Linked DNA regions of Homo sapiens: region 2 is linked to region 1. The links come from fine-mapping of genetic effects on gene expression. A gene starts in region 1. The other region holds a variant in brackets. All regions are shown on one strand. Distances are from middle to middle.

The links. PIP is the estimated chance that this variant, and not a neighbour inherited with it, causes the effect.
Region 2: its variant is the best candidate, but not a certain one, in a credible set for the expression of DTX1 in subcutaneous fat (GTEx, PIP 0.86).

Annotation. Positions count from the first base shown.
Region 1 is chr12:113,055,457-113,058,351 of GRCh38, reverse strand. It overlaps DTX1 (deltex E3 ubiquitin ligase 1), which reads right to left and starts at 1,622. Exons shown (of 10, transcript NM_004416.3): 1 at 1,408-1,622; 2 at 1-903. The coding sequence starts at 159. RefSeq lists an enhancer at 1-384.
Region 2 is chr12:113,076,843-113,079,737 of GRCh38, reverse strand. It overlaps DTX1 (deltex E3 ubiquitin ligase 1), which reads right to left. Exons shown (of 10, transcript NM_004416.3): 3 at 1,633-2,314. Among named protein-coding and RNA genes, the nearest start is that of DTX1, 22 kb to the right of the region's middle. The variant A/G (reference allele first, on the strand shown) is at 1,353.

The sequences.
Region 1 (2,895 bases):
CTTCAGCACGTTCTCAATGTGGTGGCACACGGTGGCCGTGTAGGGCCGCCAGCGGCTGTGCTCATTCAGCCACTCCCACACCACCACCCGGGCCACGTTCTGCGGTGGGAAGCCCAGACCATTCACAGGCATCAGCCCACCGTGGCCTGGCCGTGACATGGCCGCCACTGCCTCAGGGGCCAGGTCCCCCACTATTGCAGGCCCAGCTCCTCCTGGGCCTGGCAGCAGGCGGCAACTTCCTCTCTCCCCAGGGGGACAGCAAGGACCGTCTGGCCTCCTTTCTAACTCTGGGTTCTCTCTGAGGCCTAGAGACCTCCGTTAAAGGAATGTGGGATGGCCATCCAGGCTGCAAAGACCCCTTCCCTGTAGAGCCTTCTCCGATAAAGGGTGCTGCCCTGGAAAGCAAGTGTCTCTCTTATGCCGGAGGAAACAGCTCTAAAGTCCTTGGCCCCCTCGGCTGGCTCAGGTAGGGAGTGAGGCAGCCGCCCCTGTTCGAGGTCCAGCCTCTTCCGTGTTGTCTCTTGGTCCCTCTTCCCCGCCAGACAGGGCCTGTCACCCAGGAGGCCTGGGCCACAGCCTGCTGCTCCTGCGGCTCTCAGCCAGCCCTTTGCACTCCCAACTGCGTCCCAGACCCTGCGCCCGGCTTCAGTGGGGCTTCTCGCCTCCCTCCGGTCTGGGCCCCCTTCTCCGACGGCTCCTGCCGAAGGGGGCGTCCCTGCCCCCTTGTTCCCTCTCCACGGTGTCCTGGAAGGCCTGGGTGGCCGCAGAACGCACGGGGGAGGGGTGCGGCGTGGACCCTCGGGCGGCGCGCCTGGACTGCGGCTCCGGAGCTGGGCTGGGGGACGAGGGGGACGAGGGGGGCGGGGGCCCGTGGGCACGCCCCACCCCACTCGTGCTCGCGACCTGCCAGGAGACAAGAGGGGAGAGGGCCCTTTAAGAGGAGAGCGCAGCACCCCCTCCCCCCTTCCCAGGAGAGCATTCGGCTGAGAACAATGGGGAACCGAAGGGGGACAGCAAGGGGGGCGTACGGGGTCGCCCCGCCCGCTTTCCCTTGGGGCAGGCCTGGAGGGAAGGCAGGGGCCGGGGGCGCGGTTTTCCGAGACTCTCCGCCTGGGGGGCGCCCTCCTTGGCTCCCGGAGCCTTCCCTTCCCCCGGGGCCCTCGCCCTGCCGGGGGGATGCCGGGTGCGCTGGGGTGCGCCGGGAAGCACGGGGATGCGCGGCGCTGCAGGCGCGGCCCAGGGCCCCTCGGGGGTCGCGTCGCGGAGGGGGCGAAGCCAGGAGCTGGATCGTCTCTGCCTCCCGCCCTGGGGGTAACAGCCCCGCTTCCCCAGCCCAGACGTCCCCGAGCCGCTCGCGGGCCCCCAGCGGGAGCCGGGGGTGGGGTCCCTAAGCACCCGCGTTCTCACCGCCTCTCTTCGTCTCCGGCTCCGGCTCCGGCTCGCGCTCCAGCACCGCCGCCTCCTGGGCTCCCCCCGGAGTGGGAGGGAGCCGCGGTCCCGCCTCCGCGCCCGTTCCCTCCCAGGCCCCTCGGCCGCCGCGCCGAGCTTTCCGCGCGTGGACAGACTGCCCGGCCGACGGACGGACGCAGGAGCCGGCTGGCGGCCGCCGGGATCTCGCGGGTGGGAGGAGGCCTCGGCCGTGCTCCGGGAGGGAGAGGGGAGGGGGCGGAGGAGGAGGAAGGGGAGGAGACAGATCTCGGCCCTGAGCGCCACCGGCGCTGACACGCGAGTCTCGGGGCGCCCCAAATCCTCGGCCAGGCCCTCCCGAGACCCCAAGGGGCCTTCTGACCCCAAGCAGAGCGTGAGGCAGGGAGTGGGATGTTTAGGAGTCACCGGCTTGAATCTTTGTCATCTTTATTTCCAGTCTCCCAGTCCAGGGCCTGGCACTGAATAGGTGCTCAATAAATGCTTGAATGAATGAATAAGATCCAGAGACTGTCTAAAGAAAGATCTTGAAGCATTCAGAGCTAGCCTCCTTTCCTCCTCTAACTATTCCTGGGGGTGGGAGGGTGCTGACAAGGCCTGATTCAGACTCAGTTGGAACCGTGGAATCTGAAGAGTACAGATGAGGAGACTGAAGCCAGAGAGAGTAAGAGCCAGGCCCAGGATCACAAAAGCTTAGAGCGATGCCCAGACACCAACCCCGATCTGAATCTCCTGCCAGTACCCAGTTCCCAGCCCTGAGCCCACTTCCCCCAAAGCACCCACCTGCTCCAGGTGAGAGGGGTGGGACCAGGGGAGGGGACCCTGGCCAGGAGGTGAGATCCTGGAGGAAGAGAAGGGCAGGCCCTCTGCCATGTCATTCACAGCCACCTGCAAACAACTGGTGCTCAATAAATGGTGGGTGAGCATTGGTTGGATGGAAGGGAAGGCTGGAAATGGCAGCGGCTCAAGTGTTAACGGGATGGCCAGTCCCCCTGTCCTCCAGCAAGCTGGATGCGGCTGAGACACACATTGGCTGGGAGGGGGGTGGACCACCTGGGGCCTGGGGGTGTTTAGATTGGGGAAGATGAAGGATGCGTCCGGGAACTCCAGCCTGGGTGGCTGACGGGGGTCAGTGGCCTGTTTGGGCGCCTGCCCAGAGCAGCCCACGCCTGCCTCCCCGGGGCAGATGGGGATACACTAGGCAGGGTCAGGGGCAGGCTGCTCAGGGGTGCTTTCCCAGAATCCAGCTCTGGCTCTCCGGCCAGCTGGAGGGACCTCCCCTCCCCAGGCCCCTGCTCTGACCTGCAGCCCAGTGTTGGATGGGCTTTTTCAGATTGGGTCAATGATTCTGCTTGCTTTCACCTGCTGTAGACTAAAGAGAGAGGCTTTGCATAGGGCAGGGCCAAGTCTGACGATACTCCCACAGGATCACTGAGTTCTGGGATTTTAGCCTAGGGTCCCTGGATGGCC
Region 2 (2,895 bases), 21 kb before region 1:
ACACACACACACACACACACACACACACACACACACACACACAGTAGCCGGGAATGGTGGCATGCACCTGTAGTCCCAGCTACTCAGAAGACTGAGGCAGAAGAATCACTTGAACCCTGGAGGCAGAAGTTGCAGTCAGTGGAGATTGTGCCACTGCACTCCAGCCTGGGCAACAGAGTGAAACTGTATCTCAAAAAAAAAAAAAAAAAAAAAAAAAAAAAAGAGAAGTGGCCAAGAGGGGATTCGAACCCAGGAAGTCAGACTCCCAAAGGGACAAAAGGTGAATAGGGCCACCTAGTTCAGGGTCCTGGCCTTTCCTTTTCCCAGGCCTTGTTTGCCCATAATAAAAGGGGTGAGCTGGATGCAGTGACCCCAAAGGTCGCATCCAGATCTGAGCTTTGGTGATCTCGGACCATCATTATCAATTCCCCCGGCCATGCCATAGTGATTGAAGCACAGTTGGTTTTGGGTGCCCTCTCTTCCTCTTGGGGACCACAGTCCAAACCCCCCTGGTCTTTTCTCTTCTGGTCTGTCCCAAGTTCAAGGTCTTTGATCTTTCCTCTCATTGCCACCCCTCAGGGCTTGGTTCTTTGCTCAGATGACTGAATCTGGAGTCCAGGGTAGGCACCCAACAGCAGCTCACTGGGTCCCTATCCTGGGGCCTGGGACACCTTAACCCAAGAATTTGCAAACTTGATACAAGCTGGGTGCCCATCCTTAATAAAATCATGCTGAGAAAGCCAGTTCATAAAAGTGTTTCCAAAAAGGGCTGCTCTGGTTAAAACAAGAGCAGAGAGACAGACTCTCGTTTGCCTGGCTTTCTATTACCCCACCCCCCACGATTCCAGGTCACCCCGGGAGTCCCTGGAGCCCAGTGTGCAAACCATAGTATTAACCCAGAGTAATTGTGGTATTTCAGGTGCAGCCTATGGGGAAATACTTTGGACAAGCAGCTGATGCTTGCTCGAGCCACCATGTGAGGTGGGCATGGACTGGGACAAGGACAGATGGACTCTGAAGCCCTCTAAAAATCCTAAGACAACACAGCACAGACTTTGGAATTGGGCAGGTCTGGACTCCAATGTCTACCCTTCCCCGGTGACCCTGAGAAGGCACCATAGCTTTCCCAGCCTTGGCTTCCCCATCTGTAATATGCACATGGTAGAACTGTTTGGTGGAATAAATGAGAAGGCACCATAGCTCTCCTAGCCTCGGTTTCCCCATCTATAATATGCACATGGTAGAACTGTTTGGCAGAATAAACGAGGTGATACATATAACGGGTTTAGCAAATAATAAACATGGAACACGCACCATTGCTGATGTTGCTATTATGGCCCCATCACTTGTGA[A/G]CTGTCTGATCTTGGGGGAGTTAGTTCTTCATCTGTGAACTGGAGGTGATGATGGTACCTACCTCATAGGGTCCTTATGCATGGAGATAGATGTGTGGGAACATGTAAAGGTGCTTAGTTGATGCTTGGCACAAAATGAACATTTAGTGCATGCTGGATATTACTTATCGTCATTATTATTATTGTAATCTTTGCTCCTGCCCTAGTGGCCAACCACCCCCGGGCTTCGTCCTTGCCTGCGGACGACGCAGAGGCCCCCTCCCCCTGGGCCCCGTCTTACCCCGGCGGGATGGAGGCGCGCGCGCTCACGCTGGTGGTGCGCTGGGGCCCGGGCCGGTTGAGGTTGTTCTGCCCCGGGGTGCGCGCTCCGCCGGGGGCGCCCGGGCTCCGTGGGGGCGCCCCGGGAGGCGGCGCGGGCTCGGCGGGGCCGGCGGCGGGCGCTGCCCAGAGCGCGGCGCCTGTGAAGGTGGCGCTGGGGCGCACGGCAAGCGCGCCTGGAGGCCCTCCAGGTGGCGGCGGCGGCGGCAGCGGGGGCGCGGGGGGCGCCTTGCGGCGCTGCGAGGCCAGGATGGCGTTGGAGGCGGCGCGCGTGCTGTTGACCAGCAGGCACTGCTGGCAGGAGCAGGGCTGGCCCGAGCTGGCGCCCACGGGCCACGACTGCGACTTAGGGATGGAGCCCACGGTGAGCGGGTAGGCGAGGTCCAGGCGGCGGCGCAGGCGGCGGCGCCGGCGCGTCTGGCGGTTCATCTGCGACATGCTGTTGAAGTAGATGAGGTAGCAGAAGCCTAGCGATGAGAGGTCGAGCCACGGGTGCTGCTTCTCGTAGGCGTTCTGGATGGTGATGCAGATGTCCATATCGTAGGCCGTCCATGCGCCGCCGTCGTTCTCCCACTCCCACACGATGCCCTTGCCCGGCGCCGACGACGGGTCGTAGAAGTTGCGCCGCACGGGCCGCATGGTGCCTGTACTCGAAATGGGGAGGAGGCGTCAGCACAGCGGGCGTTGGTCTGCGCGGCTGGAAGGGCGGGCCACAGCCAGGCAAGGGTGGGCGGGAGGTTGGGGGGTCAGCACAGGCCTCCAGGGGGTCCACCCAGACTTGGGGAGAGGGTCAACACATGCACGGAGAGGAAGGAGGTCAAGGCCCAGGCATGAGGTTCAGCACAGGCTGGAGGGTCAGGACAGGCGGCAGCCAGGGTGAGGGGGGCCGGGGCTAAAGGTTCAGCGCATAGCACTGGGGCGAGAGGTGGGCAGGGGCGCGTGGTCAGTAGATTGGGCGTAGGGGCGGGAGAGCCACCAAACAGGGTGGGGGTGCCAAGATAGCCTGGGGTAGGAAACCAGCAAGGTGTGGAGGGCTCCCCCACCCTCCACCTCTCCAGGGCCAAGACAGACACTGAAGTGGGGGTTATCACAGGCCCTGGATGGTGCGGGGGAGGGCAAAGGGGGCCTGGGGGTTCTTCAGACCAGAGTCAGATAAAGTGGGGCAGGCATAGACAGAGACCAAGGCCATGCACATAGGCCCCATGCAGTCCTCTTCTTCATTATA